Regions from separate parts of the Homo sapiens genome. Here all the other regions are linked to region 4. The links come from fine-mapping of genetic effects on gene expression. A gene starts in region 4. Each other region holds a variant in brackets. All regions are shown on one strand. Distances are from middle to middle.

Region 1 (5,101 bases), 25 kb after region 4:
CCTGGAGGAGGGCACTGGCAGACTCTGACCTGGACAGCAGCAGTGAATGCTCTGAGAGCATGGGAAGTGCCGGACGTGATGCCCCACACCTGTAATCCCAGCACTTTGGGAGGTCAAGGCAGGTGGATCACCAGGAATTCGAGAATCAACAGGAATTCGAGACCAGCCTGGCCAACATGGGGAACCCCCATCTCTACTAAAAATACAAAAAATTAGCTGGGTGTGGTGGCACACGCCTGTAATCCTAGCTACTTGGGAGGCTGAGGCTGGAGAATTGCTTGAACCCAGGAGGTGGAAGTTGCAGCGAGCCGAGGTCGTGCCACTGCACTCCAGCCTGGGTGACAAAGTGAGACTCTGTCTCAAAAAAAAAAAAGAGAGTGTGGGAAGTGCTGGCCCCCAGAAAGTGACTGCCTAGGCAAGGAGGGGCTGCTCCCCACCCCCAGAGACGCCCCGTGCCTGCTCCCACCCAGCATGCTCCAGAGCTGGGAAACTGCTCCTGCTTCTCAGTCCCCTGCCAGGGCAGGTTATTCCCTGGGGCCTCACACTGTGAGGGGAATGACAGGGTACAGGGTCGTCCTTCCCCCGACATGGCCGGCTGGACCTCAGCTCTGCTAGAGGCCCTTCCACATCCTGCCTCCTGCCCTGGGCTGGGGGTCAGTTTTCCCAACCTGGAGGTGAGTGGGAGTCCGAAGCTGCCCCAGGGAGTGGGTGGGGGGGGCTTGCCCTGGTCTCCAGGGATTTCAGAGGACAGAGTTGACCTGGCTGGTGTGGCTCTGTGGCCAGGGCAAGGGTTCTGCCTGGGGCCAGGACATGTGTCCTGGCTGTGTGGCCTCCCCAGGGCCCAACTCTCTGGCCAGACTCCTGTGGGGAGGAGCAGGGGCTGCAGGGGGTGGGGGAGGTGAGGCCATCAGTTCCCCCAACCCCGAGGTGCCGCAGCTCCAGGGCAAAGGGCAAGTCGGCTCTGGCCAGAGTAAGGAAGCAGGGCAGGGGACAGACAGCAGAAAGAGGAAGGCCTGGCCCAGCAGCCAAGGGGCTTAAGCCCTGAGGCCTGAACCTTGCCCCTCTCCTGGGATGCCCCCCTAGAGAGACAGAAACTGGGACCAACAGAGACAGGAGGAAGCAGAGAAAGAGTCAGAGTCATCCCAGCACTTTAGAAGGCTGAGGCAGGAGGATCCCTTGAGGCCAGGGGTTGGAGGTCAGCCTGGGCAACATAGCAAGACCCCATCTCTACAAAAAAAAGAAAAAAAGAAAGAAAAAAAGAAAAGAAAAGAAAAAGGAATGTGATGTGGCCTGAAAGTCCAAAAGCAAGGCACGGAGAGGAAGAGGAGCAGGAGGGGAAGACAGAGCTTTGGGGGAAGGGCTTTTAGCCAGCAGCAGGGAGCCAGGGTTATCTCCAGACACCTGATCCAGCTATTCCTGCTGCTGGCTGAGAGCCCTTCCCCAGGCTAGAGCCCAAGGGGCCTGGCAAGAGCCAAGCTGTGGGGTGGGGCCTTCCCAGGAGGGCCAAGGGGTTCCTCTGTCGCCATTGTTCCCTGTCCACAGAAAGCTTCTCCTTTTCCATCCGCAGAGCTCACACAAGATAGCTGTGCCTGCGTGTGCCCATATGCATCTGTGTGCGTGTCTGCGTGTGCATGTGGTATGTGCAATATGCCTGAAGCCATCTGCATCTAGGACCCTGGACTACCCAGTGTCATAAAGGCAGCCTGGGCTCCAGAACAAAGCCTCTCCCCCAGTATAGCCCCATGAGGCCAGCACTCCTTGGAGAACTGGGGAGGCCCAAATGAGGCGGATTCTCTGCTCCTGCAGAAGGCCCTGGTGATCCTTCTATCCCACAGTGGAGCAGAAGAGGCAGTCCCTTCTCCTCGGGTTGCCCCCACCCAGGTGGCCCTTGAGCTCCCAGGAACCACACAGTCCCAGGGTGGAGGAGGGCCCGACTGACCAGAGACCCCTCCCCGACTCACTGAGCTTCAGGCCTCTGCAGTGGGGAGGGACTGAAAGTGCTCCCCGAGTGGGCCACAGCATGTTTCTTGCATGCAAAGCTCAGCGTGCATGTGAACACACGCACACGTGCAAACAGGAGCATTCACCTCTGTCCCTGGCCAATCAGCTTCAGCCTGCCCACCTCAGCCGCCATTCGCCCATCATCCACAATGGCCGGCTGAGGGTTCTGGACGTGGGGATGATGGGCAAATGGCGGGTGAAGTGACAGGGAGAGAGCTTGGGTCGGCACCCTGGGCCCACATTCTCCCACCCCCTGCCACCCTTGCTCACTGCGGCCAGCCGGGTTCCCTCCCCAGCCCTGTTTGTCACGCACATTTTCTCCACAGATGTTT[C/A]GCGGTGCGTGTGTAACGGTGACAACTGTGCATTTGTAGCCTCTGTGCCTGCATGGTGTGAGTCCAGTGTGTGAATGTGTGAATCAGGGAAGAGACCCAACTCTCACTGGTTTGAGCAGAAAAGGAATCCACTGGTTCTTGCCATGGAAAAGTCCACAAGGTGCCGGTTCGGGCACAGCTGGGGCTCCGTCGTCAAAACCCGTGTCGGGTCCTCAGCTCTCCTTTCCTTTGTGCCCAGCAAGATAACCATGGGGCTCACATTCTCCTGCTTTGCTAGGGAAGAAAAAATGATTTTTTTTTCTCAGTATTTCCAGCAAAAGTCTCAGGGCAGACACCCATTGGCCAGGCCCAGGTCATATGACCCACTTCCAGAGCCCCAGGCAGGGGCTGCCCTGCCTGAAGCCCCTGGTCTGAGAGCTTGAGGGCTGGTCCTCCAAGGGAACACAAGGGGCTGCCCCAGAAGAAGGAAGTGAGTGTGGGCAGCCAGGAACTTGGAGGTCCACCCCAGTGACTCTTCGGGAAGGGGTCCTCTGGGGCGGGGTGGGGACATATGTTTTTCCTATCCTCAGTCTCACTCCAAACCAGACTGGCATCTAGAATTCTGGGATTAGAAAGCCCTGGGATTCCTGCTCTATTTTTTATTGTGCAGATGGGGAAACTGAGGCCCAGAGAGACAGGGCATGGTCTAGGGGTCACACAGCCAGTGAGACCAGAGCTGGAGCTAGAACACAGGTCTTCTGACAGCCGGTCCTGACTGTCTACACAGCATGCTCCACGCGGCCAGTCTCAACAAGCCCCAGCAGTGTGGACGCAAGGGGCTGAGGTCAGGGCTTGAGACACCCCAGTGGGCAAGCCCCAGTCCAAGAAGAAAAGCCCACCTCAAAGGCTCCAAAGAGAATGGGCTGGGGCCAGGGGCAGGAATCAGCGGTAGGCTGATCCAGGGTGGGGGTGAGAAAGGCCAGCGCCTCTAGACCGCCTGCCACTGCTCCACCTCAGCAGCAAAGGTGGGTGAGGGAGGCCAGGACCAGGAGGGCAGGAGAGGTCAGGGGGTGGAGAGGCCATGAGGGGCCCGGCAGGCTCCAGCAGGCCTGTTTACTCAGAGGCCCACGAGGTCAAGGCCCAGGCCCCAAGTTAATCATTAATGGCGGCCCGGCCAGCCCTGCTCGTGGCCGCTCAGCGTGGTGGGGGCCAGCACCCAAAGCCCAGGCACTGCCCCCTGCTGCCACCCTGATCAGGGGGACCCAGGCATGCTTCGGAGGACACCGCGTTCTCTGCAGTCCCAGGGACTCTGACATCGTCTTTCCCCACTCAGGGCAGGCCTATGCCAGGATCCCGGGGTCCCCAAGGCAAGAAAGGGGGTCTAAAGCTCTCCAAGCCAGCTCCATGTTTGCCTCCCACAGCCCGGTTTCTGGGTGTCACACCCAGCAGGGAGGGGACAGGGCAGAAGCAGCAGTGGGGACAGGGACCTTGTGCAGGAGAAGAGTCCCAGTGGGTGCAAGGGGTCAGGGGTGCCCACATCACTGGCAGGGGACAGGTTTGGTGGCAGCACGCAGGGCTGGGGTGGTGTCTACAGTGGGACAGGCACCTAGGCCTGAGTCCAGGGGTCTGGGCTAGAGGTTCTCGGGGGCCCCCTTGGGGTTCCTGCTTGGGCTGACCCAGCTCAAGGATAGCTGAGCTCCATGCCACCCAGCTGTGTCTCCATCATCCCTAGAACCAGCTGAGACCAGCGGCTCCCAACGCCCCAGGGACAGTGTCTTTCCTCTACGATAAGCGGGCACTGACAGAGGAGCAGCACCCGCATTAGCAGCTTTTAGGATGCAAATCCCTGTTTTGTCCTGGGGATTAGGCCTGAACCTCCAGCTGGAGAAGGCAGCCCCTGTGGGGCAGGGGGACAAGGACATGGTGGCTGTGCTGGCTGCCCACCCCACTCAGCCTCCCTGCCTGACCCAAGACCCAGGGCCACCCCGGGAGGAATCCAGGTGGTGGGGACAGGGAAGGTCCGGCATTTGCACAGTAAGTGGCTGCTGTCCTTGGGCCCTGGGCTCACTCAGCGTCTCTCAGGGACAGTGGCGCCTCTGGGGGACCTTGGTACAGCCCAGATGTGGACGCGGCAGATGGGTGCCGACTAAGATGCTGCATCTCTCAGGCGTACCCAGTGAGGCCAGCCCTCCCAGCCCCTGAGAGAAGCAGCGCTTCTAGAAGGCTCCTCCCAACATGGCAGAGAGCTCTTGGAGCTTGAATAGACTCTTAGCCTCAAAGAGCTTCATTTTTATTTGTTAAGGCTTTGGGGGATGGGGCGGTGCAGGGGTAAAGCTGCCCACTGTGGAAGGGAACCTGGGACAGCTAGTGCCTGGGGACATTGGGGGCCCCCATTTCTCTTGGGGTACCTCTTGTGGGGGTGCTGTCCCTGCCTCCACAGCAGTCAGAGGAGTGTCCAGCTCCAGAGCCCCCACCCCGGGCAGCCCAGATCAGGAAGCATTTAGAAAAAGCCTGAGGGCACATCCTATGGGCCACCCTAGGGGCAAAGCTTTCTGGGACCCCCACTGTAAACCCAGGCAAGGAAGGCACAAGGTCTCTCGGCCTTGGGCACCCTAGAGCACTGCACTGTGTGGACCCTCAGCGTCCACTTTAGCACGAGATTGTTCCCTTTTCAAGGCACCACTTCTGCCTGACCAGGAAATCCTGAACCAAGGCTGCCTATCCCTCCCTGAGTCAACACTTGCCGAGGAGGGAGGTGGAGCAGGAAAACAGGCTCCAGGAGTGCAGGC
Region 2 (5,101 bases), 330 kb after region 4:
CAGGCTAGAGTGCAGTGGTGCGATCATAGCTCACTGCATCCTCGAACTCCTGGGCTCAAGCGATCTTCCCACCCCAGCCTCCCGAGGAGCTGAGACTACAGGCGCGCGCCACTACTCCCGGCTAATTGTTCAATATTTTTGTGGAAACAGGGATCTTGCTATGTTCCTATGGTGGTCTTGAGCTCCTTAGCCTCCTAAAGTGTTGGTATCACAGGCGTGAGCCACTGTGCCCGGCGTTAACAATCTTCTGCCCCAGGGTCGGCCACAGTTGGACAGGAGCACCCTGCCTCCCCTGTAGCATTCGTCCCCGTGCCCGGAGTTAACTCCTGGACGACGTACACCTGCTGCACTGCTGGATATAGCCATTCTTCATTTTTCCCTCCTCCACCCACCATGTACACCCCATCAGCAAGTCCCATCCGATATACCCACTACATACATCTGCCAGCTGTTCCCATCTCCACCCACACCCCGGCCTCCAGCATCTGTCTGGACTGCTGCGGCAGATCCTCACTGGTTTCTCTGCTTCCACTCTCGCCCTTCCCCTAGGTCCATTCTCCACGTAGCAGCCAAGGGGATTCTTATATTTATTTATTATTTAATTTAGTTTTAGAGACAGGGTCTTGTCCTGATGCCCAGGCTGGAGTACAGTGGCATGATCATAGCTCACTGTGGCTTCAACCTCTTGGGTTCAAGTGATCCTCCTGCCTCAGGCTCCTGAGTAGCTGGGACTACAGGTGTGCACCACCACACCTAGGTATTTTTTATTTATTTTATTTTTTGCCTCACACTCTGCCAAGTCTCAATGCCTGGCTAATTTTAAAAATTATTTTGTAGAGGCCACGTGAGGTGGCTCTCACCTGTAATCCAGCACTTTGGGAGGCTGAGGCAGGCGGATCATTTGAGGTCAGGAGTTCAAGATTAGCCTGGCCAACATGGTGAAAACCCATCTCTACTAAAAATACAAAAATTAGCGGGCGTGGTGGTGGGCACCTGTAATCCCAGCTACACGGGAGGTTGAGGTGGGATAATCGCTTAAACCCGAGAGGCAGAGGTTGCAGTGAGCCAAGATTGTGCCACTGCACTCCAGCCTGGGCGACAAAGCTAGACTCTGCCTCAAAAAAACATAATTTTTTTTTTTTGGTAGAGATGGGGTCTGGGTATGCTGCCCAGGCTGGTCTTAAACCTTGGCTCAAGCAATCCTCTCACCTTGGCCTCCAGAGTGTTGGGATTACAGGTGTGAGCCACTGCATCTGGCTTGAGTTTTTATTTAAAGCCCCAAACATTAATGAGTCCCTGCTGTGTGCTGATACCCACAACTGACAGCTTATGGCCACACGGTCTGTAGGATAGACAAGCCCATAAATAATTCTGTACACAATGGTAAAACAAGAACTGCTGTTGATGTGTGTACCAGAAGGGCAGTGACGTCAGCCTGGAGAGTTGGCCTGGGCCTGGCAGGGAGTAAGGAAAGAATTCTGGGTGCAGAAGACAGCAAATACCAAGGCCTAAAAAAGAATGAATTATTTGCTGTTTGGGAAATGGAAGCCCACGCTGAGTGCTGAAGCACAGGGACTCTGCGCAGGAAGAGGAGGGGAAGCAAGAAATGAATTTGGGTCCTTGTGATGGCAGTGGCTGCTGCCATCACGCTGTGTGGCTAGGGCTGCACACTTCATGGAGCCGGTGGAAGCCCCGTCCCTCATGAGTTGGGACTGGAGCCGCAAACCGCTGCTGCAGACCCAGGCCTTCTGCTCTATGGAGCAGGCAGGAGCCCCACCCTCTTGGGCAGGGCTACAGCCACCCAAACTGCAGCTGTGGATCCGAGCCTCTCTGCTCCTGGGGGAGCCGGGAACAGGCAGAATTTGCCCTTCCAGATGCAGCTGCAGCCGCGCAGGCAGGAGCCAGGGACAAGTGGGAGCCCTGCCTCTTCCAAGTTGGCGGGGTGGGAGCTCCCAGGTGCAGCTGTGGCTGCCCCCCCAGGCACAGGACGAGGGCATCTCTGTAGCCTGCACCATCGGCCATCCCAGGAAGGACAGCCCCCTTCACCCTCCATCCCTGCAGGCTCAGGGGTGTCTGCTTCCACTGCCTGGCCTCTCTCCACTCCAGCAACTGCTCTGATCTTGGAGGGGAGTCGGAGCCAAGACCTGCAGCCATGAATGGCAGCAGGAGGAAGGGGGTGGGGTCCCCAGTAAGGCCCCACCCTCAGGCCAGGGAGGGCCTGAATTCTGGGGGCTGGGCTGCCAGTCCCTCTGACCAGAGTGGAAACTCGTGGAGCCTTTTCTGGGCCTGCCAATGGCCCAATCAGCACACACTTCTTCCCCGCTGAGGTCCATAAAAACCCT[G/A]GGCTCAGCCAGAGCAGCGCAGAGAATAGCCAGAGGATGAAGATGGTAGAGACGAGGGGACAGGATGACCAGCTGCAGAGAGCAGTACCCTCTCTGCTGATAGCTGGAGACGGTGGGGTGACCAGCTACAGAGAGGAGTACCTTCTCCGCTGAAAGCTACAGAGACCACCTGCCAGCAGAGAGGAGCTACACTCTGCTGCGAGCTTCAGAGACCTGCAGAGACATTGGAATGACTTGCCTGCGGAGAGGAGCCACTCTCTCCAGGGCCTCCTCTCTGTTGAGAGCTGAATGGTTGAGCTCATGGGACAATCTGTCTCCAGAGAGGAGCTACCCACTCCTCTGAGCTCTTCTAACACTAAATAAAACTCCTCTTCACCCTTCACTTGTCTGTGTACCTCATTCTTCCTGGATGCAGGACAAGAACTCAGGCAAAGGCACTGTGGCCACAGAGGTTCCGGCCAGAAAAATCGACACCCCAAAAATCCCATAACACTTGGTAGGAACCAACCTATATCAGCCTGATAAGCCATGCTGGACATTTGCCTGCCGTTGAGAGAGTGGTGCTGCCCATGAGGGTTTTTATGCCCAGTAGAGACAGGATTGATGAGGGGACCATAGTTAGGAATGATTGTGATGGTATGAGGGGGGATTCACTCTTTAAAAAAAAAAAATCTTATGCAGCCTTTTTGGAGGACCTGCTGGACGCCAGCCCTTGGGATTCAAAGGTTAAGAAAACCTTTTCTGGCCAGGTGCAGTGGTTCACACATGTAATCCCAGTATTTTGGGAGGCCAAGGCAGGCGGATTGCCTGAGGTCAGGAGTTTGAGACCACCCTGGCCAACATGGTAAAACCCCATCTCTACCAAAATACAAAAATTAGCTAGGCATGTTGGCACATGACTGTGGTCCTAGCTACTTGGGAGGCTGAGGCATGAGAATAGCTTGAACCCAGGAGGTGGAGGTTGCAGTGAGCCAAGATCGTGCCACCGCACTCCAGCCTGGGTGACAGACAAGACTGTCTCCAAAACAAGCAAACAAACAAAAACCATTTCTTGTCGTGTAGCAGGTGGTGGAGGGGGGCAGGGTGGAAACATGGAAACTGTGGAATCACTTGACAAATACAGGGTGGCAGGTGCCACACAGAGGTAAACAGAGTGGGGGTATTGGGTAGAGACTGCTTGGAGCTTCTGCTCCTGTGGGTGGCTGTGCAAGTCGGTGGTGGGGGCTGTAGGAGATGACTGGAAGGTGTGCCCATCCCTCACTCCTGAAAGATGCCCCCACTCTGTGCCACCCTTCCCAGCCTTGTGTCTCGTGCTGACCACTACCTAACATTCCTGGGGCCACTGTCAGTGGGTGCTCCTCACTAGGCCTTGGGATTTCCTCCATCTGCTCTGGAAGCCCTTCCCATGGGAATTGTCCCCACCATGCCCCCAAGCCCCACCCTCGAAGATGCCTCTAGTCTAGCAAAACGGAGAATCGTGCTTATGATTTCCGAGCACTGCAACCAATGTCTTGCTCCATTCCTTTGTTCATGCCGTTCCCTCTTCCTAGAATGCTGTTCCGTCACATTTCCAAATGTGGGACCAGTGGGCATCTCTGAAAGCCCAGTCTAAACGCCTGTGTGATTTTCTCGAAGGAAAGCATTTGAAATTCCCAGGCTGGCCCCAGACCTGGAGGAATCTTCCCTCCCTGCCCACCCCAGCACTTTGTGCTAATTACTGGCTTCAAATAGAAAACAATAGTGTTTTTATCCCACATCTCATTGATGCTCTTTTTTTTTTTTTTCATTTTTAGTGAGAGCCTTTCTCCCGGCTCATTCCATAATTCTATGTTCTGTAATAATTATTTGGGTGTTTTTCCTCCCTTCTCACCACTTTGGGGATGAAGACAAGGTTTCTTCATTGCTGTCATGGTGTTTTGCCTCTAGTAGGTGTGAATGAATGGCTCGTGCCAAGAAAATGATTGGACTAGACCCAGAAACGTCTCAGAGACTCCCAGTTACAGTTACCTAAAGCGGAGCTCTCTGACTTTCATTGTGTATAGGAGCTAGTTTTCATTACTCTCGTCTTGGAGATAAGCCACCTAAAAGCTTATATTAAGCCCCTATGAGGTGTGAGGCAATGTGCTCAATGCTAGAGTTCCAGGATTGATAAAGATAAGAGAGTGGGCCAGGTGCAGCACTCGCACCTATAATCCCAACACTTTGGGAAGCTGAGGTGGGAGGATCACTTGAAGCTAGAAGTTCGAGACCAGTCTGGGCAATGTAGTGAGATCCTGTCTCTACAAAAAAATACAAAAATTACCTAGGCATGGTGGTGAACATCTGTAGTCCCGTCTACTCGTGTGGCTGAAGCGGGAGTTTGAGGCTGCGGTGAGCTATGATCGTACCACTGCACTCCACTCTGGGCAACAGAGCAAGACCCCATCTCAAAAACAAAACAAAGCGAAAAACAATAAGGATATCACTTGCTTCTCAGGAAGTCGCCCTGCTCTGCAGGGGGAGCCACATGAGACATCACTGGGGGGAGTGCTGTGGGACACATGGAAGAGCTAGAGGGTGACTCTTGGGGACAGCCAGGGAAGCTCTGAGGAGGGAAGGACAAGAGGGCCACACAATGAGCAGCTATCATGATGCTCCTTGGCTGTGTGCACTTGTCTGGCCTGATGGGGACTGGGGATGGCAGGGGAGGAGTGGGCTTCTGATGGGTTTGGATCCATGGGTGGCCAGTGCAGGTGTCCCCTTGCAGGCCCAGGGAGAGT
Region 3 (5,101 bases), 39 kb after region 4:
GTAGTCACGTGGCAAGACCACGGCTGGGGCCCAGAGAATCCTGCTGGGGGCCCATAACATGGGATTGGCCCCCTGGAGCTAAGGCCAGGGCTGCAGTGCAGGAGGCCCACACCCGCAGGGGATCCTGCCCGAGGGGCAGGGCTGGATGAGAGGCAGTGAGCCCAGAGCATAGACAGAAGACAGTGGGCGTGTGTGTGTCTTGGTCACTGCGTGCGTCTCTAGGTAACTTTGGTTTGCACGTTTGTGAGGTTGAGCGTCTGTCAATGTGAGTTTCCGTGCATGGCTGGTGACTGCATTTGTGTGTCTGTGCATGGGCCTGGGTACATCCGTGTCTCTCGGTGTGTTTATGGATCTGTTCATTCAATCACTGCCTGGTGCGGCCAGGCCCTAGACAGACTGGAGGGCTCGGTCCCTGCCCCATCAGGCCCACAGTCTGGCAGGAGGTGAGCAGGAAGTAGGAATTACACCCATAATCCCTAGGCAGGATGGTGACAGGGGGAGCTCACGCCTCGAGGGTGGAAGCCCCGAGACAAGGGACCTGCTGCAGCTTGGCACTCGGGGACCCTGGATGCTTTCATGAAGGACAGGAAAGCCGAGTGCCATAGGAGGCATGGGAGTTGTCATGGGGAGGAGAGTTTTCCAGGCAGAGGGGAGAGCATTTGCAAAAGCCGGGGCACTGAGGAGGGGTCGAGGCAGAACTGCAGGTGCTAGGAAGCCAAGGGGTGTGGGAGGTGAGGGCAGGAAGGACAGGAGCTAGACACGCAAGCCTGGAGGCCACCATGATAATGGTGGCTGCTTCCTAGAACCGTGGGAAGGTGAAGTTCGGAAAGCAGCCCGATCATGTGGTCATTTAATAATACGACCATTCTGGGCCGGGCACGGTGGCTCACGCCTGTAATCCCAGCACTTTGGGAGGCCAAGGCGGGCAGATCACGAGGTCAGGAGATCGAGACCATCCCGGCTAACACAGTGAAACCCCATCTCCACTAAAAATACAAAAAATTAGCCGGGGGTGGTGGCGGGCACCTGTAGTCCCAGCTACTCGGGAGGCTGAGGCAGGAGAATGGCGTGAACCTGGGAGGCGGAGCTTGCAGTGAGCTGACACTGCACCACTGCACTCCAGCCTGGGCGACAGAGCAAGACTCCATCTCAAAAAAATAAAATAAAATAAAATAATAATAATAATATGGCCACTCTGTTGGCTAAGAGCCTGGATGAGGCCAGAGCTGCCATCCCATGAAGAGAGATGGTGGCTGGGGACGTGGGGCGGCAGGGGAAGACGTGGACAGGTGCGGGCATGCAGAGGCAATGGAAGGGTGACAGGCAAGGCCTGGCGACGGCTCAGGTGTCAAGGGCCAGGAGGTGTACATGCTGTGTGTGCACACGTGTGCACGTGAGCCTGTACAAACGCCTGCCAGGAGCTCAGGCCAGGCCCTCTCTCCTCTCCCTCTCCCCTCTCCAATCTCTTGCCCGTGTCCCCCACAGCCTCGCCGCGGACATGACAGTGACGGTAAGAAGGACTCAGTGTTGCAACTGCATTTCCTCTCGAACCCAGGGCCGCCAGAGATTAGCTGAGAGCCCCGTGTGCACTGGGCGATAACACCCCCACCACTCCCCCCGCTTCCTAATCTCTGATTCATTTCCAACTGATAACAGCATGAGGGCCCATGGGCGACGAAGAAACACCCCAGTGGGTCCTACCAAGGCCACTGTCAAGCCACGTGCAGGGACTCCGGGGAGCAGAGACAGGGAGGGCGAAGACCAGGGGTGATTGCAGAGGCAGAGACAGAGAGAGGAAGAAAGAGAATGAGAAGAGAGAGAGAAAATGAAAATGGGGAGAGAATGAGAGAGGGGGAGAAAGAGAGGGAGGGGAGGGCAGCGGGAATGGTCGACGGGTGCAAAAATATGGTTAGGTAGAATGACTAAGATCCAGGATTGATGCATGCAGGCCTTAATACCCAGGTGATGGGTTGATCTGTGCAGCAAACCACCATGGCACGCGTTGACCTATGTAACAAATCTGCACGTCCTGCACATGTATCCCAGAACTTAAAATAATTTTTTTAAAAAAAAGATTCAGTATTTAATAGCACAACAGGGTGATGACAGTCACCAAGAATTTACTGTACATTTAAAAATAATTAAAAGAGCATGATGAGAATGTTTGTAACACAGAGAAAAGATAAATGCTTGAGGGACGGAGACCCCATTAACCCTGATGGATCATGACACATTGCATGCCTGTATTAAAGTATGTCATGTACCCCGTAGATATATGCACCTGCTATGGACCCATACAAATAAAATAAAAAGAAAGAGGAAAGGAAAGAGAATGAAAATGAGAGACAGACAGAGAGAGAGTGAGGATAAGGGGGAGATGGAGACAGGCGGAGAGAGACAGAGAGACACAAACCCCCCAGGTCAGGGCAGGGTGACGAGGAAGAGAGAGGAAACAAGGACAGTGGTGGAGGGACAGACTGACAAATGTGTGCAGATACAGAGAGGGGCTGGGGGGTCCTGGGGGCTAGAAGGACTTACTAAAGTGATAGAGAAACAGAAAAACAGGCCAGGCACAGTGGCTCATGCCTGTAATCCCAGCACTTTGGGAGGCTGAGGCAGGCAGATTACTTGAGGTCAGGAGTTCAAGACCAGCCTGGTCAACATGGCAAAACCCCATCTCTACTAAAAATACAAAATTAGCCAGGCGTGGTGGCGCACACCTGTAATCCCAGCTACTCGGGAGGCTGAGGCAGGAGAATCGCTTGAGCCCAAGAGGTGGAGGTTGCAGTGAGCCAAGATCGTGCCACTGCACTCCAGCCTGGGCAACAGAGTGAGATTTTGTCTCAAAATAAGAAACAGAAAAACAGAGAGAAGGGACTGAGTGAGAGCAAGAAAGGGAAGAGGTGACCCAAGGTCAGGAGACAGAGGGAGTGAAAAGGAGAGAGCAAGACGGTGAGTGGTGGGGTGCGAGGCTGGATGGGCCCTCCCTGGCCCTGCCCATACTGCCTAGACACCATGGGTTAGGGCAGGACAATGATTTTACTGGCTCGACCCCTGCCAGGTACAGGCCTCAGCTGGGGCAGGGTGGCAGGGACAGCACACACCCCTGACCAGTCCAGAGA[G/A]CCCCAACCCTCAGGTGGGGCAGGCAGGGCTGTGGGCTGCACAGAGCTGAGCGGGGCGGATGGAGCCATGCTCCTTGTCCATGGACTCGGCCAGAGCCAAGGAGACAGAGCAACCCATCGGGTCTATGTGGATCCTGACGGGGTCTGGCAGGGCTGGACAGTCAAGGTTCGGGGGTCTGGGCTCAACCCCAGGGCTGTGATGGCGTGGCAGCCATCTGTGCTTTCCCAGAGCAGGCAGGAAGTGCCTGCAGGGAGCTGGAACCGCAGTGCTGGTGCTCAGGGCTGGGACAGGAGGGAGCCGGTTTCCCTCCACTCCCCTCCCCAACCGAGCACTCCCCTGGGTTCACAGTCTGGGTCATGTGGTGATGCTGAGAGTTTAGTGGAAGAGGAAATGGGAGCTCCAGGAACTACAGAGGCCCGGCCACCTCCCTTGCTCCTAAGCCCCTGCACCAGATCCCCCCTAAGTATAGAAGAGGGGTACAGACAGCTGCCCACCAGAGGGGCGCCAGGGCCTGGGAAGGATCTCACAGGCTCCTGGGCTCAGGCCTTCCTTTGGGGATGAAGAGGGTTCCCAGAGCAGCCAAGCCAGGGGCTCCGGGCTTAGCAGAGGGGAAGGGGCAGGGGGTGCCCCCTCCACCGACCCCAGTGCTCAGAGCTGGTGGGAGAAGGGGGCCCTATGCAGAGGGAACTTGACGAGCAGGTGCCAGAGAAGCAGAGGCTGAGGAGCAAATCACGAAGCCCAGGGGGACTTCACTCTGAGTGCAGAGAGGAGCCCAGGGGCACTCCCAAGCAGGGGAGCTTCAGTGCTGTTGGTGTTCTAGTATGTTCCTCCATCCCCCCCAGGCCTTCAGCCCAATGCATGAAGGCTGGCAGCACATGGGGCCCAGCCAGGGACCCCAGCTCCTTGCCCCTCCAAGCTAGGGCAGTCACCCCTCTGATTTGCCGTGCCCGCCCTGATGCCCTGCCTGCCGCGACCACAGGAAGCACTGCCCCAGCTCAGCACTTCCCTTTTCTGAAATCTGCCCCCAGCAGCCCGGTGGCCAGGGAAGACAGACTTCCCGCTGCCCCCCCGGGCTCTTCCCACCGGTCACAAGTGGTTTGTTCCTGAGCTTCCCTGGGCAGAGGTGACCTTCTTGCCTCAACCACAGATCAGTTATTTATCAGAACAGGAAAGATGGCACCAGAGATATGTCCTCACCGCCCCCAGGAGGGCCTGGCCTGCTCCAACGACCACACGCCCGTTCCCCACATCATACGGGGCCTGCTCACCACATCACACAGGCGTGCGTGTGGCTGGCGCGTGTGTGCAGGGCTGCACCAGGGAGGGGCCGGGTGGGAGGCCTCGTGGGCAGATCGGGTGGGATGTGGGATGCACCCTGGCTCGTGGGCTCAGATGAGGCTCCCTGTGCCAGCCGGGAGCAGTCAGGATATCTGGCGTCCTCCAGATCTGATGAAAGACATCCTTCCTCCAGTCCCAGCCTCAGCTCCAAGCTTCCCCACAGGGAATACCCTGGGATAGGGCCTTAGCCAGCTTCTCTATCCCTCTACCCAGAGCGGACAGAGGGCTCACCCCCTCGGGATTCAGGACTCACTGTGGGTGTTTGGGGTTGGATACTTCTGTGTTGTTAGGGCCATTCCGTGCATTATAAGATATTTAGCTGCATCTCTGGCCTATATCCACTAGACACCAGGAACAATTTTCCCATCACCACCACCAATTGCAATGATCAAAAATGTCTCCAGGGCACGGTGGTTCATGCTTGTAATCTTAGCACTTTGGGAGGCAGAGACGGGAGGATCTCTTGAGCCCAGGAGTTCGAGACCAGCCTGGGCAACATAGCAAGACCCCTCTCTCTTCAAAAAATATAAGTATTAGCCAGGTATGGCGGGGCACACCTGGAGTTCCAGCTACTCAAGAGGCTGAGGCAGGAGGATCGCTTAAGCCCAGGAGGTTCAGGCTGCAGTGAGCTAGGATCATA
Region 4 (5,101 bases):
TCATCAGCCCCCTATTGGACAAAGTCTTATTCCCATTACTGAGGTTTCTTCCAGTCCTACGGGGCAGAGTTCCCGATCTCTGGGCAGGCAACAGCAGCTGTGCAAAAAAGGCCAGACATCGCCTTCCTCCCACAACTCCACAGGCCGGGAACCGTGCATGTACAGTGGCGTTTCTTTGTTCCTAGGTAGGAAAAGCCATTAGTTTTAGCACCGCAGAAAAAAACGCAAATCGCTCTTGGTGCTTTTTGATTTCCGTCCAGGTCTCCCTCCACAGGTGAATGCTATATGAATGGGTCCTGCATTTGGCTCAGCAAGCAGCTCTCCGGCTCACATCGGGATATTTATTTAACGTATCTGGTTTTTACTCCCTCCCGTCCAAAAGCGTCAAGCTAAAAATATCTTGTTTATGAGCTCTGGACCGAAAACGAAGCAGTTGGGCTATTAATCACTGGGACTATGTTGAATAGGAACTTGATTAAAGCGCAGTGTGCGTTGCCCAGATGAAACTGCTTCTTTACTGCGATCGTCGTGGAAGCTCGGGGCTCTCCAGCGGTGTTTTTAGCTGTGCCCCCTCCGGGGCTCCTGGGCGGGTCGTGGCGCCTTGCCAGGCCTAAGGCCACTGTCGGTGAAGGGGGTCTTCCCTCACCTGTAGGCAAGCGCGCCTCTAGCCGGGACGCAGGCGGCGTCAGGCCTCAGCGCCAGTGGCGAGGGGCGGCGCGGGCAAGGACAGGAGACACTTGAGGGCTCCCAAGACTCCATCTGGGCCCAGCTGACGGTCCGTAGCCGCCACCCCGGCCCCGGTAAAGAATGCGAGGGACGCACGTGGCTGGGGGTCTCGGTGGCAAGCTCCTTCCCCCGCCGCGGTGAGAGCATTAGCTGCCGCACTCAAGGGGCCCCAGGGCCTGGCCGCCTCGGTCCCTAGGATCCCGGGGACTACAGCGCCCGGCGAACCACTGGGCAGAGTTCTCCCTGTGCGTGCTCGGACCTGGCAGCCCGGCGGCCTGGACACCCTCGCTCCCGCCGTTGGCGCCCACCTGAATGGGGAGGCGGGGGAGGAAGCGGTGGCTTCGGGCCTCGAGGGCTGCGGCCCCCGCCTCGGAATCCCGGCCCCAGAGTTAAGTTTGTCTCCTCCCTCGGTGCGCCCCTCCCCGTGCTCGCCCCGGCGTCCAGCTCCGCTAGTCTGGGGGGCCCCGCGGTCCCGCAGGAAAAAAAATCGGCGACTCCACGCCGGGTAACAGCGCCGGCCCCGCGCGCCTAGCAAGCCGCGCGCTCCGACCTGGAGAAGTAATTATAAAGAAAGTTTTCCAGCCCGGGCGGATCGACCGGCCAGGTCCTCCAGGCTCCCGGGCCGAGGCCGCCTCCGCTCCCCGCGGGGTCCTAGCGCCCTGCGCGGCGCCGCCCATGGGACCCCGGCGTCCTCCGAGAGGTACCTCTGCGCGGAATCACAGGGGTAGCCTGGAGATCAGAGCTAGGAGACGCAGAGCCACCGCGCTCAGGACCTCTCCGCGCGTCCCAAACGGCCCCCCACCGGCCCCAGCCCCGCTGCTCTGCGCTGCAGCCTCCCCGGGACGCGGGTCCGGGACAGGCCTGGTTCTGGCTTTGAAAGAGAATCCGCGCCCCAGCAGCTCAAGACCAAGACTCGCCCTCCGCCCCCCACCCCTACCCCGTGCAGCCTCGGGATACTCCTGGGCTCCCGGCCGTGGCTGGATACGGGCGCCTAGGGCAGGCAGGAGGAGGGGGCCCCCGCTACCGACCACGTGGGCGCGGGGGCGACGGCCGGGCCGGGGGCGGAGCTTGGAGCGAGCGCCGCGGCTCTGCTGGGCGCGCTGGAGGCGGTGGGCGTTGCGCCGCGGCCTGCCTGGGGAGCGCGGCGCTGTGCCGCGCTGGTTCGCCGCCCCATGCCGGCCGCGCGCTAGGACCCAGCAGGCGCCGCGCCGCCGCAGCCCGGGGACAGAGGCCGCCTCGGACTCTAGGGGGCGACGCGGCCTGCCGGGTATAAAAGCTGGGCCGGCGCGGGCCGGGCCATTCGCGACCCGGAGGTGCGCGGGCGCGGGCGAGCAGGGTCTCCGGGTGGGCGGCGGCGACGCCCCGCGCAGGCTGGAGGCCGCCGAGGCTCGCCATGCCGGGAGAACTCTAACTCCCCCATGGAGTCGGCCGACTTCTACGAGGCGGAGCCGCGGCCCCCGATGAGCAGCCACCTGCAGAGCCCCCCGCACGCGCCCAGCAGCGCCGCCTTCGGCTTTCCCCGGGGCGCGGGCCCCGCGCAGCCTCCCGCCCCACCTGCCGCCCCGGAGCCGCTGGGCGGCATCTGCGAGCACGAGACGTCCATCGACATCAGCGCCTACATCGACCCGGCCGCCTTCAACGACGAGTTCCTGGCCGACCTGTTCCAGCACAGCCGGCAGCAGGAGAAGGCCAAGGCGGCCGTGGGCCCCACGGGCGGCGGCGGCGGCGGCGACTTTGACTACCCGGGCGCGCCCGCGGGCCCCGGCGGCGCCGTCATGCCCGGGGGAGCGCACGGGCCCCCGCCCGGCTACGGCTGCGCGGCCGCCGGCTACCTGGACGGCAGGCTGGAGCCCCTGTACGAGCGCGTCGGGGCGCCGGCGCTGCGGCCGCTGGTGATCAAGCAGGAGCCCCGCGAGGAGGATGAAGCCAAGCAGCTGGCGCTGGCCGGCCTCTTCCCTTACCAGCCGCCGCCGCCGCCGCCGCCCTCGCACCCGCACCCGCACCCGCCGCCCGCGCACCTGGCCGCCCCGCACCTGCAGTTCCAGATCGCGCACTGCGGCCAGACCACCATGCACCTGCAGCCCGGTCACCCCACGCCGCCGCCCACGCCCGTGCCCAGCCCGCACCCCGCGCCCGCGCTCGGTGCCGCCGGCCTGCCGGGCCCTGGCAGCGCGCTCAAGGGGCTGGGCGCCGCGCACCCCGACCTCCGCGCGAGTGGCGGCAGCGGCGCGGGCAAGGCCAAGAAGTCGGTGGACAAGAACAGCAACGAGTACCGGGTGCGGCGCGAGCGCAACAACATCGCGGTGCGCAAGAGCCGCGACAAGGCCAAGCAGCGCAACGTGGAGACGCAGCAGAAGGTGCTGGAGCTGACCAGTGACAATGACCGCCTGCGCAAGCGGGTGGAACAGCTGAGCCGCGAACTGGACACGCTGCGGGGCATCTTCCGCCAGCTGCCAGAGAGCTCCTTGGTCAAGGCCATGGGCAACTGCGCGTGAGGCGCGCGGCTGTGGGACCGCCCTGGGCCAGCCTCCGGCGGGGACCCAGGGAGTGGTTTGGGGTCGCCGGATCTCGAGGCTTGCCCGAGCCGTGCGAGCCAGGACTAGGAGATTCCGGTGCCTCCTGAAAGCCTGGCCTGCTCCGCGTGTCCCCTCCCTTCCTCTGCGCCGGACTTGGTGCGTCTAAGATGAGGGGGCCAGGCGGTGGCTTCTCCCTGCGAGGAGGGGAGAATTCTTGGGGCTGAGCTGGGAGCCCGGCAACTCTAGTATTTAGGATAACCTTGTGCCTTGGAAATGCAAACTCACCGCTCCAATGCCTACTGAGTAGGGGGAGCAAATCGTGCCTTGTCATTTTATTTGGAGGTTTCCTGCCTCCTTCCCGAGGCTACAGCAGACCCCCATGAGAGAAGGAGGGGAGCAGGCCCGTGGCAGGAGGAGGGCTCAGGGAGCTGAGATCCCGACAAGCCCGCCAGCCCCAGCCGCTCCTCCACGCCTGTCCTTAGAAAGGGGTGGAAACATAGGGACTTGGGGCTTGGAACCTAAGGTTGTTCCCCTAGTTCTACATGAAGGTGGAGGGTCTCTAGTTCCACGCCTCTCCCACCTCCCTCCGCACACACCCCACCCCAGCCTGCTATAGGCTGGGCTTCCCCTTGGGGCGGAACTCACTGCGATGGGGGTCACCAGGTGACCAGTGGGAGCCCCCACCCCGAGTCACACCAGAAAGCTAGGTCGTGGGTCAGCTCTGAGGATGTATACCCCTGGTGGGAGAGGGAGACCTAGAGATCTGGCTGTGGGGCGGGCATGGGGGGTGAAGGGCCACTGGGACCCTCAGCCTTGTTTGTACTGTATGCCTTCAGCATTGCCTAGGAACACGAAGCACGATCAGTCCATCCCAGAGGGACCGGAGTTATGACAAGCTTTCCAAATATTTTGCTTTATCAGCCGATATCAACACTTGTATCTGGCCTCTGTGCCCCAGCAGTGCCTTGTGCAATGTGAATGTGCGCGTCTCTGCTAAACCACCATTTTATTTGGTTTTTGTTTTGTTTTGGTTTTGCTCGGATACTTGCCAAAATGAGACTCTCCGTCGGCAGCTGGGGGAAGGGTCTGAGACTCCCTTTCCTTTTGGTTTTGGGATTACTTTTGATCCTGGGGGACCAATGAGGTGAGGGGGGTTCTCCTTTGCCCTCAGCTTTCCCCAGCCCCTCCGGCCTGGGCTGCCCACAAGGCTTGTCCCCCAGAGGCCCTGGCTCCTGGTCGGGAAGGGAGGTGGCCTCCCGCCAACGCATCACTGGGGCTGGGAGCAGGGAAGGACGGCTTGGTTCTCTTCTTTTGGGGAGAACGTAGAGTCTCACTCTAGATGTTTTATGTATTATATCTATAATATAAACATATCAAAGTCAATGTCGGTGTCTTTTTAAAACCAGAAAGAAGCTACTTCCAAGGTTGTCTGTGGGCCAGGTCACATTTGTAAATAATACAGCATTTTCCCTGGCGGCAATCCTGACTTTCATGAGCTCTCCATCCATCCTGAGCCCCTCTTACCCTAAGGGGGTGACTTACTTCCCCCAGGCAAGACAAATAAATAGCAGAGGACAAGGCTCCAAATGGAGTATGTCCAGAGCCTGAAGGCAGTCTCTTGGGGTCAGGGGAGGGGGCTGAAGGGGTTACTGGGCTGAGGCCTTGGCGAGGCTTCTTATCTGCCCCGGGGAGGAGGAGAGGGAGTCCTCTGCCTGAGGGGTAGGCCTGGCTAAGCAGCCCTAGGCTCAAGGAGCCCTTTGTGCAGACTTCCTTGCAAATCACCTACAGCTGCAGCCCTGGCCACTCACACACACCGCAGCTCCAGATTCCAGCAGGACCCTCGGCCAGCAGGAAGAGGC
Region 5 (5,101 bases), 52 kb before region 4:
TCTCCTTAATTATAAATTAAGTGGCCATATATGTGTGGATTTATTTCTAGACTCTCTGTTTTGTTACAATGGTCTGTCTACACTAGTGCTAATATCACAGTCTTTTATGATAGCATAATAATATGCTATGGTAAACATAATAATAAGGTTTGACATCTGGTAGTATAAATCCTCCAAATTCATTTTTCAAAATAAAAAGGGAAAAAATTTGTGATAATGTGTTTTCTCAAATGCAATGGGTAGAAACTCAGATATTTGTTATGCCATTAATATTTAACTCCTATTTTATGAATGTTAATTTATACCTGCTCAATATTTAATAATACCATAATAGAAAACTATACACCTACTAACATCAACAAAATTTTTTAAATGCAAGTTAGGAACCTGAAGAAAAAAATGTACAAAACACATTTTTAGTGGGATACCTTAATATACCTCTCATTCTTTGACAGGCCAGGGAGAAAAATACTTAAAAATACATGAAATTGAGGGAGCCCAGATGGTGAAATAGCATAAAAACCTTCAAAGCAGCTACTATAAACATCCTTAAAGAACTAAAGGAAACCATGCTTAAAGAACTAAAAGAAAGGATGATAACAACATATCATCAAACAGAGAACATCAAGAAAAAGACAAAATTATTTAAACAGAAACCCATAGAAATTCTAGAATTGAAAAGCAAAATTTAAAAAAATTAAAACTTCACTAGAGAGATTCAACAGCAGGTTTGAGCTGGCCGGAGCAAATCAGTGAAATTGAGGCTAGATCAATATAGATTATCCAATCATAAGTACAGGGAATTAAAAAAATGAAGAGCAGAAAGAAAAATTATCAAAGCCTCAGGAAGATGTGAGATGCCATTATATGCACCAAAATACACACAGAAGAATTAGCAGGTAAAGAGGAAAGGCAGAAGCATCAATGTACTCAAAGAAACAAAGGTTGAAACTTCTCATATTTGATGAAAAACATTAATCTACACAGCCAAGAAGCTCAACAAATTCCAAGTATGCCAAACAAAGAGATCCACATCCAGATATATTACGGTAAAGATGCTGCAAGACAAAGAAAAATCTTAGAAGCAACAGGAGCAAACAACATGTCACATGTAAAGAGTTCCCAGTAAGATTAACAGCAGTCTTTTCATCAGAAACAATGGAAGCCAGAGGCAGTGGGTTGATACAGTCAAAGTGCTGAAAATAAAATTTCATCTAGCAAGCATCTTATATCCAGCAAAATTCTCTCTTAAAAACGAAGGCAAGATAAAGATATTCCCAGATAAACAAAACCTGAATTTGTTGATAGCACACCTGCTTGACAAGAAGTGTTCAGGCAGAAAGCAAGTGACTCCAGACAGTAATGTGAACATGCACACACACACAACATACACAAACACACAATACACACATACAAAGAACATTGGTAAAGGAAATTATGTAGAAATTACAAAAGACAGTATATAATTGTATATTTCTTCTCTCTTTTTTTTGAGACAGGGTCTAACCCTGTCACCTAAGCAGAAGTGTGGTGGTGCAAACACGGCTCACTGCAGTCTCAACCTCCTGGGCTCAAGCAATCCTCCCACCTCACCCTTCCAAATAGCTGGGACCACAGATGCGCACCACCACACCTGGCTAATTTTTTAAAAAAATTTTGTAGAGGCCGGGTGTGGTGGCTCACACCTGTAATCCCAGCACTCTGGGAGGCCGAGGTGGGTGGATCAAGAGATCCAGACCATCCTGGTTAATACGGTGAAACCAGTCTCTTCTAAAAATACAAAAAATGAGCCAGGCGTGGTGGCAGGCGCCTATAGTCCCAGCTACTTGGGAGGCTGAGGCAGGAGAATGGCATGAACCTGAGAGGCGGAGCTTGCAGTGAGCCAAGATCACGCCACTGCACTCCAGCCTGGGTGACAGAGCGAGACTCCATCTCAAAAAAAAAAAAATTTGTAGAGATGGGGTCTCACCATGTTGCCCAGGCTGGTCTCGAATTCTTGACCTCAAGTGAACCTCTTGCCTTAGCCTCCCAAAGTGCAGGGATTACC[G/A]GTTTGAGCCACCATGTCTGACCTTCTTCTCCTTTCTTATTTTAACTGATTTATAAAGTAATTTCATAGAACAATGTGTATATAATTGTGTTGTTGGGGCTATAATCTACTGAAATACAGTGTACTTGACACTGATGCTACATGGAAGGTGAGAGCAAAGCTATACTGGGAAAAGGAAAGGACATGAGATGGTAGCTGAAACTATAGCAATAAACAAAGACAACCGGAATGGGTAAATTAAAAGGTAGTGGCCGGGCATGGTGGCTCACACTGTAATCCCATTACTTTGGGAGGCCGAGGCGGGTGGATCACCTGAGGTCAGGTGTTCGAGATCAGCCTGGCCAACAAGGTGAAACCCCACCTTTACTAAAAACACAAAAATTAGCCAGGCGAGATGGTGGGTGCCTGTAATCCCAGCTACTTGGGAGGCTGAGGCATGAGAATCTCTTGAATCCAGGAGGCAGAGGTTGCAGTGAGCCGAGATCCCACCACTGCACTGCAGCCTGGGCGTCAAGAGCAAAACTCCATCTCAATAAATAAATAAATAAATAAATAAATAAATAAATAAATAAAATTTTAAAACTCTATAGATATACTTTTGAGACAGGGTCTTGCTCTGTCACCAGACAGGAGTGCAGTGGTACAATCACAGCTCAGTGCAGCCTTGACCTCCTGGGCTCAAGCGATCCTCCAACCTCAGTCTCCCAAGTAGCTGGGACTATAGACGTACGTGCCACCACACCTGGCTAATTTTCATATTTTTCGTAGAGACAGGGTTTCACTATGTTGCCCAGGCTGATCTCCAACTCCTGGACTCAAGCCATCCACTCTCCTTGGCCTCCCAAAGTGCTGGGATTACAGGCATGTGCCACCGTGCCCAACTGTGTAGATATACTTTTTCTCCTTTCTTCTCTCAGTTTCTTTAAAAGACTTCAGACTACCTAATGCATTAATGATACCAAAGAATTGTTGGGTTTTTAACATATAGAAACATAATATGTATAATAATATGTATAACATATTAGCATAAACAATAATAATGCAGGAATGCTATTAAAAATGCATAAATACTATTATACTATAATGCATAATAATAGCATTAGAAGGGAGTATAATGGAGCTATTCAGGATTCTATATTTCACTGGAACTAAGTCGTTATAAATCTGCAAAGACTTTGGTAAGTTAGGCTAAATTACAATACAGTGATTGCTACATGACTCTGTGAATGCACCAAAAAACATTGAACTGCATACCTTAAATCATTGAATTGTATATAAATTATATCTTCATAAGTCTGTTTTTTAAAATAGACAAGGAAGATCTGAATAACAACATACAACATGATTTAATAGAGAAAATACATTAATGCTGTATAGGTCAAATAATATACATTCTTTTTAAGTATCGATAGAACATTCACACACAAAAGAATTTTACCTTAAGCAATAAAGAAAAGTTAATATATTCCAAAAAAGTAGGACTTTCATTGTCCAAAATGCAATAAAAAGGATCTTTTAAATAATCAAATAACTTGCCAATCAAAAGAGAAATCATCTTTTAAAAATCTTTTGGAGGTCGGACACAGTGGCTTACGTCTGTAACCCCAGAACTTTGGGAGGCTGAGGCAGGCGGATCATCTGAGGTCAGGAGCTCGAGACCAGCCTGGCCAACATGGTGAAACCCCGTCTCTACTAAAAATACAAAAATTAGCCCAGCGTGGTGGCATGTGCCTGTAATCTCAGCTACTCAGCAGGCTGAGGCAGGATAATCTGGGAGGCAGAGGTTGCAGTGAGCTGAGACCATGCCATTGCACTCCAGCCTGGGCAATAAAAGCAAAACTCCGTCTAAAAAAGAAAATTATTTGGAGTATAATAAATCTTTCAGATATAATATGGCAATTTCAATTATGTTTAGAAAAGAATGATGAGGGCCGGGCACAGTGGCTCATACCTATAATCCCAGAACTTTGGGAGGCCAAGGTGAGTGGACGGCTTGAGCCCAGGAGGTGAAGATCAGCCTGGGCAACATAGCAAGACCCCATCTCTATAAAAAAATAAAAAATAAAAAAGACAAAAGAATGATGTGAACAGGCCGGGTGTGGTGGCTCACGCCTGTAATCCCAACACTTTGGGAGGCCGAGGCAGGCAGATCACGAGGTCAAAAGATTGAGACCATCCTGGCTAACACGGTGAAACCCTGTCTATACTAAAAATACAAAAAAATTAGCCGGGTGTGGTGGCGGGCACCTGTAGTCCCAGCTACTCGGGAGGCTGAGGCAGGAGAATGGCGTGAACCCGGGAGGCGGAGCTTGCAGTGAGCTGAGACTGCGCCTCTGCACTCCAGCCTGGGCGACGGAGCGAGACTCCGTCTCAAAAAAAAAAAAAAAAAAGAGTGATGTGAACAGTATATATTACAATTTGAGGTTATAGTCAAAGCTTTATTTGTACCTGACCCAATAGGGGAGCCATTTTGCCTACCATGTGACCATTCTGAGGGCTCAGTCTCTTCCTAGCAATGGAGTGGGATGCAAGACACATAAGATAGGTCTACCATAAGTGAAATTGCAGAAGAAGCCAGATTATACACAGCCTGTGAAAGCCATATTGATTGCTTGTATCAGGAGCAAAGCCATTGACAGGTGAATGAGACAAGATTCAGACAGGTTAACAACTGTAGAAGAGAAATCGGTGGATACAGGATACTGACATGAAAGAGAATGAGTTTAATAGCAGAGGATTCGGATGCTCTTCGGAAAATTAATAAAGTGGCTGTCTTTGTGATTACACTGTGACAGTCCAACGGGAAATCCATAGAATATCATCACATGCCTTCATCACGTGCCTTCATCAGAGCTTTCCCCCATCAACACTTGACTCATTCGTCACTGATTTTTAAGAACAATGCATAATTGCAGCTATAACCTAGTTTTCTGAAATATAAAATAAAACTGACTTTTTGTAATGCTTGTTTAATTCTCAAGGCAAAGCTCCAATCATATCTTCTTTCACTGTATATGCAATATGGGTTCCTGTTTTAAGTGGATTCACTCCAAT

What was found. PIP is the estimated chance that this variant, and not a neighbour inherited with it, causes the effect.
Region 1: its variant is the best candidate, but not a certain one, in a credible set for the expression of CEBPA in whole blood (TOPMed, PIP 0.67).
Region 2: its variant is the best candidate, but not a certain one, in a credible set for the expression of CEBPA in whole blood (INTERVAL, PIP 0.57).
Region 3: its variant is the best candidate, but not a certain one, in a credible set for the expression of CEBPA in whole blood (TOPMed, PIP 0.85).
Region 5: its variant is the best candidate, but not a certain one, in a credible set for the expression of CEBPA in whole blood (TOPMed, PIP 0.68).

Annotation. Positions count from the first base shown.
Region 1 is chr19:33,274,538-33,279,638 of GRCh38, reverse strand. No RefSeq gene overlaps it. Among named protein-coding and RNA genes, the nearest start is that of CEBPA, 25 kb to the left of the region's middle. RefSeq lists enhancers at 541-1,098, 3,398-3,542, 4,829-5,101 and a cis regulatory region at 3,463-3,476. The variant C/A (reference allele first, on the strand shown) is at 2,334.
Region 2 is chr19:32,966,532-32,971,632 of GRCh38, reverse strand. All of the region lies in intron 1 of CEP89 (centrosomal protein 89), which reads left to right. Among named protein-coding and RNA genes, the nearest start is that of CEP89, 2.9 kb to the left of the region's middle. The variant G/A (reference allele first, on the strand shown) is at 2,343.
Region 3 is chr19:33,260,036-33,265,136 of GRCh38, reverse strand. No RefSeq gene overlaps it. Among named protein-coding and RNA genes, the nearest start is that of SLC7A10, 37 kb to the right of the region's middle. The variant G/A (reference allele first, on the strand shown) is at 3,123.
Region 4 is chr19:33,299,458-33,304,558 of GRCh38, reverse strand. CEBPA (CCAAT enhancer binding protein alpha) reads left to right here and starts at 2,025. Exons shown (of 1, transcript NM_004364.5): 1 at 2,025-4,625. The coding sequence starts at 2,145. The coding sequence ends at 3,221. It overlaps CEBPA-DT (CEBPA divergent transcript), which reads right to left and starts at 1,738. Exons shown (of 1, transcript NR_026887.2): 1 at 1-1,738. RefSeq lists silencers at 1,285-1,544, 1,625-2,194.
Region 5 is chr19:33,351,731-33,356,831 of GRCh38, reverse strand. No RefSeq gene overlaps it. Among named protein-coding and RNA genes, the nearest start is that of CEBPG, 19 kb to the left of the region's middle. The variant G/A (reference allele first, on the strand shown) is at 2,048.